Linked DNA regions of Homo sapiens: region 2 is linked to region 1. The links come from fine-mapping of genetic effects on gene expression. Tissue or cell type: whole blood. Region 1 holds a variant in brackets; the other region holds the start of a gene. All regions are shown on one strand. Distances are from middle to middle.

Evidence for each region. PIP is the estimated chance that this variant, and not a neighbour inherited with it, causes the effect.
Region 2: it holds the start of CAPZA1, and the variant in region 1 is fine-mapped to the expression of CAPZA1 in whole blood (TOPMed, PIP above 0.99).

What each region holds. Positions count from the first base shown.
Region 1 is chr1:112,482,332-112,487,331 of GRCh38, reverse strand. It overlaps a transcript of WNT2B not described here. Among named protein-coding and RNA genes, the nearest start is that of MIR4256, 23 kb to the right of the region's middle. The variant C/T (reference allele first, on the strand shown) is at 2,079.
Region 2 is chr1:112,617,461-112,622,460 of GRCh38, reverse strand. CAPZA1 (capping actin protein of muscle Z-line subunit alpha 1) reads right to left here and starts at 2,629. Exons shown (of 10, transcript NM_006135.3): 1 at 2,578-2,629. The coding sequence starts at 2,616. It overlaps ST7L (suppression of tumorigenicity 7 like), which reads left to right and starts at 3,320. Exons shown (of 15, transcript NM_017744.5): 1 at 3,320-3,552. The coding sequence starts at 3,348. RefSeq lists enhancers at 2,347-2,796, 1,949-3,148, 3,257-3,356.

The DNA.
Region 1 (5,000 bases):
CACCTTTGTAATCACATTTCTATTCTCTTTGCTCCCTCCCCCAATCCCCAGGCAACCACGAATCTTTTATTTACTGTATCTTATCTTGCATTTATAGAATTTTAAATAAACAGAATCATATAGTGTGTATTGATTTTAAATGTCTTCTTTCACTAGCATAATTGAGATTCATTCATGTAGCTGCATTCTTTTTATTGTTGAATAGTATTCCATTGTATGGATATATCACAGTTTACTTATCTATTCACTTGTTGATGGCTATTTGGGTAATTACAAGTTTTTGGCTTTGACATGTAAAACTGTTATGAACATTATTTTACAACCTTTGCATAGAATATACCCTCATTTCTTTTGAGTAAATACCTAGGCATGGGATAACTGAATCATGTGGCAGGTTAATGTATGTTTTCTAAAGAAACTATCGAAATATGTTCCAAAGTTGTTGTATCATTTATACTCCCATTTGCAGTTCTAGTTGCTCTACATTCTCGTCAACACATAATATAAAAAGTTCTTTTAATTTTAGGCTTTCTAGTAGGTATGTATTGCTATCTCATTGTGGTTTTAATTTGCATTTCCCTAATGACTAATGATCTTTTCATTTGCCTACTGTATGTCTTTTTTGAAGTTTCTAGTAAAATATTTCCCCTATTTTTATTGGGTTTTTTTTTTCTTATTAACTTTAGAAAGTTCTTCATATGTTCTGGATATAAGTCTTTTATTAAATGTGTGATTTGAAAGTATATTCTCCTAGTTAATGGCTTGTCTTTTCATTCTTTTAATAATGTTTTTGAACAGCAGAAGTTTTAAATTTTGATAAAGTCCAATTTATCAATTGGTTCTTTATGGGTAGTGCTTTTGGTATGTTCTTTTGTTTTGTTTTGTTTTTGAGACAGGGTCTGGCTCTGTTGCCCAGGATGGAGTGCAGTGGTGTGACCTTGGCTCATTGCAACCATTGCCTCTGAAGCTCAAGCCAACCTCCCACATCAGACTCCTGAATAACTGGGACTACAGGCACTTAACACCATGCCCAACTAATTAAAAATTTTTTTGTAGAGATGGGGTCTCGCTATGTTGCCCAGGCTGGCCTCAAACTGCTGAGCTCAAGGGATCCACCTGCCTTGGCCTCCCAAAGTGCTAGGATTACAGGCATGAGCCACAGCACCCAGCCTGGTGTGTGTGTGTGTGTGTGTGTGTGTTAAAAACTCATTATCTTGCCCAGGCTGGTCTTGAACTCCTGGGCTCAAGCAATCCTCCCAGCCTTCCAGTAGCTGGTGTTTTATCAAATCAAACCCAACAATATATAAAAAGATAATACATAAATGACCAATTGGGTTTATGGAAGGAATGCATAAATGGTTTAATATTTGAAAATCAATCAATGTATTTCACCATATTAACAAGTCAAAAAATCCCATATGATCATGTCAATGAATTCAGAAAAAGTAGCTGGGATTAGAGGCACATGCCACTGGGCCTGGCTGCTTTTGGTATATTAAGAGAAATCTTTACCTAACCCAAGGTTACAAAGATTTTCTGTTACATTTTCTTCTAGAAGTTTTACAGTTTTTTTAGGTTTTACATTTAGGTCGAAAATATATCTTCAGTTAATTTTTGTATATGGTGTGATGTATGGATCAAAGCTTAGTTTTTGCATATAGATATCCAGTTGTTTCAGTACCATTTATTGAAAAGATTACGCTTTCTCCATTGAATTGCATTTGCACCTTTGTCAAAAAATAAACTAAGCACATATTTGAGAGACTGTTTCTGGACTCTTCATTCTGTTTGATTGATATGGTGATATAGTTCTTTATTTCTATTCCAATAAAACGTAGTCTTCATGACCATAACCTTTTTTTTTTTTTTTTGAGACAGAGTCTCACTTTGTCGCCCAGGCTGGAGTGCAGTGGCACAATCTTGGCTCACTGCAACCTCTGCCTCCTGGGTTCAAGCAATCCTCGTGCCTCAGCCTCCTGTGTACCTGGGATTACAGGCACCTGTCACCATGCCTGGTTAATTTTTGTATTTTTAGTAGACACGGGGTTTTGACATGTTGGGCAGGCTGGTCTCAAACT[C/T]CTGACCTCAGGTGATCTGCCAGCATTGGCCTCCCAAAGTGCTGGGATTACAGGCATGAGCCATCATGCCCCCAGGCCTGACGACTATAACTTTATAAAAAGCTTTGAAGTTAGATAGTGACATTTTCTAATTTGTTTTTATTATTCAAAGTTGTTTTGGTTATGTTAGGTCCTTTGCATTTCCATACAAATTTTAGAGTTAACTTGTCAATTTCTACAAAAAAGCCTGTTGGAATTTTCACTGGGATTGCATTAAATCTATATATGAATTATTTGGAGAGCACTGAATTCATAGCCATATTGTCTTCTGATTTATAAACACAGTATATCTCTCCATTTATTTAGAACTTCAATTTGTCTTAGCAATGACTTGTAGTTTTTGTGTATAAGTCTTGCACATCTCCTGTCAGATATCTTTACATTTAGTATTTTTGATGCTATTATAAATAGTATTATTTATTAATTTCTACTTCCATTGCTAATATAAAGAAATAAACCTTTTTTTTTTTTTCAAGAGGGAGTCTTGCTCTGTCACCCAGGCTGGAGTTGCAGCCTGAACTCCTGGTCTCAAGCAATCCTCCCACCTCAGCCTTCTGAGTAGCTAGGACTACAGGCACATGCCAGGCATGGAGTTTGGTGATTTAAAAAATTTAAATTTAAATTTAAAAAATTTTGGGGGCCAGGCACAGTGGCTCACACCTGTAATCCCAGCACTTTGGGAGGCCCAGGTAGATGAATCACTTGAGTCCAGGAGTTTGAGACCAGTCTAGGCAATGTAGTGAAACCTTGTCTCTACAAAAACAAAAACAAAAAAAAAATTAGCCACTCAGGAGGCTGAGGCAGGAGGATCATTTGAGCCTGGGAAGTAGAGGTTGCAGTGAGCTGAGACTGCACCACCAACTCCAGCCTGGGTGACAAGTGAGACCCTCTTCTCTCTCTCTCTCTCTATATATATGTGTGTGTATATATATATATATATATGTGTATATATATATGTGTATATATATGTGTATATATATGTGTATATATATATGTGTATATATATATAAAATTTTTGGAGACAAAATTATATATAAAAATGATATATATAATTTATTATATAAATTATTATATAAAATTGTTAAAATTATTATATAAAATTATATATATATAATTTTTGGAGACAAAGTCTCACTATGTTGCTCAGGTTCGTCTTGAACTCCAGGGCTCAAGTGATCCTCCCACCTCAGTCTCCTGAATAGCTGAAATTATAAGCGCAAGCCACCATACCTGGCTTTTGTCTTTTTGATAATACTAATTCTAACAGGTGTGAGGTGACATTTCATTTGATTTGCATTTCTCCGATGATTTCATATACTTATTGGCCATCTGTATGCCTTCTTTTGGGAAATGTCTATTCAGGTCCTTTGCTCATTTTAAAGTAGGGTTATTTATTTATTTTTTAAATTTATTCTCTCTTTCTTTTTTTTTTTTTGTTATTCAGTTGTATGAGTTCCTTATATATTTTAAATGTTAACCTCTTATCAGATACATAGTTTGAAAATATTTTCTCCCATTCCTTAGACTGCCTTTTTTCTCTGTTGTTTCCTTTGCTGTGCAGAAGCTTTTTAGTTTGATGCAGTCTCATTTGTCTATTTTTGCTTCTGTTGCTTGTGCTTTTTGTGTCACATCAAAAAAAAAATCATTTCCCAGGCCAATATCAAGAAAATGTTCCCCTATGTTTTCTTCTAGGAGTTTTATGGTTTTAGCTTTTAAGCTTAGATCTGTAATCCTTTTTGAGTTGATTTTTGTATATAGTGTGAGACATGGATCCAATTTCATCCTTCTGCATTTGTATATCCAGTTTTTCCAACACTATCAAGGAGATGATCCTTTTCCAATTGTGTGTTATTGGCATCCTTGTTGAAGATCAGTTGACTATAGATGCATGGATTTGTTTCTGGGAGCTCTATTCTGTCCCTTTGCTCTATATATTGTTTTTATGCAAGTACCATACTGTTTTCATTACTATAATGTGTGTGTGTGTGTATATGTGTGTGTGTGTGTGTGTGTGTGTGTGTGTGTGTGTGTGTATCTATGTTGCCCAGGCTAGAGTGCAGTGGCTATTCACAGGTGCAATCATAGCACACTGCAGCCTCAAACTCCTAGGCTGAAGCATCCTCCTGCCTCAGACTCCACTCCCAGGTAGCTGGGACTACCCTGTATCTGGCTATAATACATTTCAAAATTGGGAAGTGTGATTAATCCAGCTTTGTTCTTGCTCAAGATTGCTTTGGACATTCTAGGTCTTTTGTCATCCCATGTGAATTTTAGGATTCTATTGTCTATTTCTGTAAAGAATACCATTGGGATTTTGATAGGGATGGCGTTAAATCTGTAGATCACTTTGGGTAGTATGAACATTTTACCAATATTTTTTCAATCTATGGACATGCGATATCTTTTTCATTTATCTATAATGTTATTTAATTTCCTTCAATGTTTTATAATTTTAGTGTACAAGTCTTTTTGGCTAAGTTTATTCCTCAATATTTTATTCTTTTTGTTGCTAATGGGAATGGGATTGTTTCCTTAATTTTCTTTCTGACTACTTTGCTGTTTGTGTCTAGAAATGTGACTAGGGCTGGGCATGGTGGCTCATGCCTGTAATTCCAGTGCTTTCGGAGGCTGAGGCAGGAGGATTGCTTGAGGCCAGGAGTTTGAGACTAGCCTGGGCAACATAGCAAGACCCTGTCTTTACAAAAAGATAAAATTAGTGGGGCTGGTGGCATGTGCCTGTAGTCCCAGATTATCAGTAGGCTGAGGCAGGACGATTGCTTGAGTCCAGAAGTTTAAGACTACAGTGAGCTATGATAACATCACTGCACTGCAGCCTGGGTGACAGAGCAAGGCTCTGTCTCAAAATTTTTTTATGTGATTATT
Region 2 (5,000 bases), 140 kb before region 1:
TGGTCTTGCTAAGCATGTAACTAAAGAGCTCAAGTTCATTCTCAGAAACTGTGAACTCAAAGCTACAACTAAAAGATTTATTTCTAAAAGTTATTACACTTTCAACTTCCTGTTTTATTTAGACAGCTCATCATGACCATTTCAGGTAACAAAACCCAACTTCCTCTTTATAAAGTGATTAAAAAAACTTCAGCAGTTATGAGAATAGATGATATTACTAGCTTTTACATAAATATTTACAAGGAAACTAAGAGTCCATTATCACCAAATTTTCTAAAGGTTCACTGCCTTTAGAAAATGTAACAAAGATAAAAAACAATATTAAAATATACTTGGCAACAAAAAAAGTATGCTAGAAGAGGAAACTGGTCACAGATCTGCTATTAAAAAAAACAATACTGGCTGGGCTCGGTGGCTCACGCCTGTAATCCCAGCACTTTGGGAGGCCAAGGCGGGCAGATCATGAGGTCAGGAGTTCGAGACCAGCCTGGCCAACATAGTGAAACCCCGTCTCTACTAAAAATACAAAAAATTAGCCAGGCTTGGTGGCGGGCGCCTGTAATCCTAGCTACTCGAGAGGCTGAGGCAGGAGAATCGCTTGAACCAGAGAGGCAGAGGTTGCAGCGAGCGGAGATCGCACCACTGCACACCACCCCGGGTGACAGAGCGAGACTCCATCTCAAAAAAAAAAAAAAAAAACCATAACCCAAGACATTAATGTTATTAATTAAAACACTGCCAGTATCTAAAGGCATCTTAATTGGCATTTTAAAATATATATTTTCCCAAGTTTAATTAAAGGCATTCTAACCTGGTATCAAAGACAAAAATCCAACAACACTGGTCAATGTGTATCAGGTAGGCACAATAAACTTAAAAGTTTATTATTTAAATTATTTGTGAAATTTTGGCCGGCCGCGGTGGCTTACGCCTGTAATCCCAGCACTTTAAGTGGCGAAGACGGATGGATCGTTTGAGCCCAAGAGTTTGAGACCGGCCTGGGCAACAAGACGAAACCCACTCTCTACAAGAAATACAAAAATTAGCTGGACTTGGTGGCGGGTGCCTGTAATCCCAGCTACTCGGGAAGCTGAGGCAGGAGAATAATTTGAACCAGGGAGGCGGAAGTTGCAGTGAGCCGAGCGAGACTCCGTCTCAAAAAAAAAAAAAAATTGTTTAGTTGTATTGTAACAGGATTTTTGCTTAATTTTATTTGAATAGTAACTATTTGCCTTAGAACAATTTATTATAGATCGATTTCCAGCATAGGCTTATACATAAATGTTTTTGTCCTAAATCTTAAACATGTATGAAGATCAGTTTCCAAATAAGAGAAAATCTAACGCTGTTGTCAATGGCTTGTTAAACATTTCAAAATGGCATGCCATATCTACATATATCAAGTTATTCCGTACAGAGGACTTATGGATCATAACAGTCCCCTTCCCATCCCAACTTCTTATTGAAAAAAACACCCAGGTAGATTTACAGAGCACTCAAGGGGACACATTTTCTAATAGCCACAGTGGGAGACAAATGTCATAATTCTTGTCCAATAAGTTGCCTTGTGAGGTCATTCTAAGTTCTACGTGCCCTAAAACCATGTACTTACTGAAAAGCCTGACAAACTGTTATGAAACTGTGCAACTGTCAGAAGAAAAGTTATTCCACCTTAGAATGTGCTCTTGTATTTAAGACCCTTTTCAAGAAATGAGCATACAAAATGCACACTGACAAATTCAACTGATCAAAGACTCCACAGTGGAGCATCAAAGAAGGCAGGATGCTTTGTTCAGTCTTGAACGTGTTAACATAAGGTTTATTATGTGTTACAGAAAACCTTTCTGGAGGTTAAGAAAATCCATCAGCTATTCTAGATTTGTTAACAAGAAACAAAATTTTCAAAAATTATCGTTAAAAGGGATGTGTCTATAGGGAAAGACTGGTGTTCAAATTCTGAAGCAAATGCCCTGAGGCTCACAGATTTATTATAGCGAATCAGACAGGCGACAGTACAGGAGAAAAGTAGTGCATGTGTAGGGAGATGGACAACATTTGGGACCTCTCCTTGTCGAAGAGTCGTGACAGCAAAATCACTTCCTGAGGAAGGAGGAGCAAAAGGGAAGTTAAGAGGCCATCCTGACCAGGAAGTGACTCGCCCTAAACTAACCCCAATTATATCTACAAATGGGGGGATGGGGTGAGCCCCAACTGCTAAAGGCGGTAAAATAACTGCTTTTTGATATGTCGCAACATAACCACCACCCTCTCGCAAAATTACAGAAAAAAGTCCACAGTCACGATCCAATAAAGGAAACGTCTGTTCCCTTGCAGGGAGGCCCCTGGGCTGTGCCTCAGGCCTGAGAGAAAAGGAGAGTCGAGGAACGAGGAACTGGGGCCACCGTGAGGCAGAGGAAAGCCCCCTAAGAGGGAAGCGTCCCGACTGCGGAGAGCGTATGTCAGCATGGACCAAGAAGCTTCTTTTTCCTGGGGACACTGCTAGGCTCCCAACGCAGCCGGGCCGGGCCCCAGTTCCCTGTCGGGGGAGGAGGTAAGAGAGAGAGGCGGACCCCTTACCTTCTCCTCATCCGACACACGATCATCGAAGTCGGCCATCTTGGGCTGTTCTGGCCCAGCCCGGCTACGGGCGCGAGGCAGGCCGGGAAGAAAGCCGAGTGATGGAATCACCGCGGCGGCCGTCGGAAGGACCCGCCCGGAAACGCCGACCAAGAGGGCCCCATGTCAGTTATGCGCGGGAGTGACGTCTCCTAACGCCAGCGCCCGCGCCCGCGCCCCAGGAAGTAGGGTTTGCCTTAGGTGATTTGAAGTCTAATATCTTTCCCAATGAGTTACACTCATTTCCCATCCATCTAATGGGCGCTGGCAGCGTGTTTCGATTATTCTTGGCTTCTGGCCTCCATCCGACCAAATAGCTGTTGCTACTCCTACAAGTTTTTCTGGTGCCCGTTATCTCCACGACAGCCGAATCCAAAGCTTTAAGAGCTGCTCGGCAGCTGGAACGATCGGTGGCTTTTCCAACCCCGGGGGGGGGGCGGTGTGAAAGGTGACCCTCATTTCGTTTGGAAGCGGTAACACTTCGGGGTCACATCTCAGTCCAGTTCCTCCAGAATAGGCGCTGCTGTCCGCCCCTTCCCTGCCCCACGAAAGAACAGGTAGCCCCAATCTTGAGACACGCTCCTCCACCTTCGAAATCTTCTCGGTCCCGGTTCCCCAGGACTCAGCCTTCACAGAGGCCAACTTCAGGTCCGCCACTATCCCAGGATTCCCGACTCCCGGTTTCCTGTCCTTCTCCCCTCCCAGCTCCTGGCGCCTGCGATAGCGGCAAGATGGCGGACCGTGGCGGCGTGGGTGAAGCCGCAGCTGTTGGAGCGTCTCCTGCATCTGTCCCTGGCCTAAACCCGACGCTAGGCTGGAGGGAGCGACTGCGGGCCGGGCTGGCGGGGACTGGGGCCTCGTTGTGGTTCGTGGCGGGGCTGGGGCTGCTTTACGCCCTGAGGATCCCTTTGAGGCTGTGTGAGAATTTGGCAGCGGGTGAGAGGACCAGACCTCCTGGGGCAGGGCGGGGGGCCAGGAGAGATGTCGGGGGCAAGAGCCAAAGGGCAAGAGATTCTCGGTAGTCCTAGAGGGCCTCTGAGGAGTCGATGATGAGCGATCAAGTGAGTTCTTTTTCTTTTGGGCTGCAACCTTGCAGTTGATTGACAAGCCTGCTGCCGTTACCGGCTCCTCCGTAGAACTCTTAAGGTCCGCCCTCTCTCTTATGTCCTCGTTTTTCCATGGAAAAGCCACCTGACAAGCTATAAGCTTCAGGTATTAGGACAGAAGAGTGTCTCAGATTAGGATACGTAATTTATATTGGCTCCCCCACCTCTGGTAGGATCCCTTAAAAGTCACTACTTTGAGTCTCCCGCTGCCCAGCTGAAAGAACTCATATCCAGGCAACAAAGATGAGCACATCTGTAATTTAAAGATTTCAGAGAAAGAAAATGGCATGATTTTAATTGAGGATTCTCTTGTTTTAAAATAGTTCTGTTAAGAAATCGTTTTCGTGATAGTTTTGTCTGTTCTTTTAGGCTTATCTTGAGTAATAAAATAGTACAGGAAGTGAGAGCGCCACAAACAACAGTGGGTTTGCTAGTTCTTTCGACGTCTGTAGAACACTTGCTACGTATTCTGTGCTGACAATACGAACACATGTAAGAAGTGATGATCCTGATGGATTCTCATATACTGTACTATTCTTTAGCTGTAGACAGGATGAAGTGTTTAGGGCCCAGGTCCCCTTACCATGTGATTATATTTCACTCAAGATCTGAGCAGCAACCTCAGAACAAGATATAAGTATTTCCATTACATGATTCAGTATGGTGGTTGATTTTTCTGAAGCAAAAGGCAGCAAATGTCCCCTTTCCTGTTCAGAGATGACATGAAAGACTGTGAGTTAATGTTCGGAAATATTTTGGTTTTTTTGGAGGATAGGTATCAAGTTCAAATATAACTAGCACTCTAAAATAAGCTAAACTGAAGAGCTAATTTGGCATCTCTGTAACAGGTGAATGAAGTGCTTAACGGTGGTTTCTATGCACAGTGTTACTGATTGACTTGTCATTTATTTTTCTACGTTAACCATATGCAACATTTAGATGAGAATAGTTGATTACTATAGATTTTTCTTTTTTACGTTTCGTGTGTGTGTGTGTGTGTGTGTGTGTGTGTGTGTGTGTGAGAGAGAGAAAGACAGACAGAGTCTCCCTTTGTCACCCAGGCTGAAGTGTAGTGGCAAGATCACTGCAGCCTTGAACTCTTCTGCTTAAGCGATCCTCTGGCCTCAGCCTCCCAAGTAGCTGGGACTGCAGGCGTGCACCACCACGACTGGCTGAGTTTTAAATTTTGCGTAGAGACTGGGTCTATTTTATTTGCCCAGGCTGGTCTTGAACTTCTGGCTACCAGTGATCCTCCTGCCTTGGCCTCCCAAAACTCTG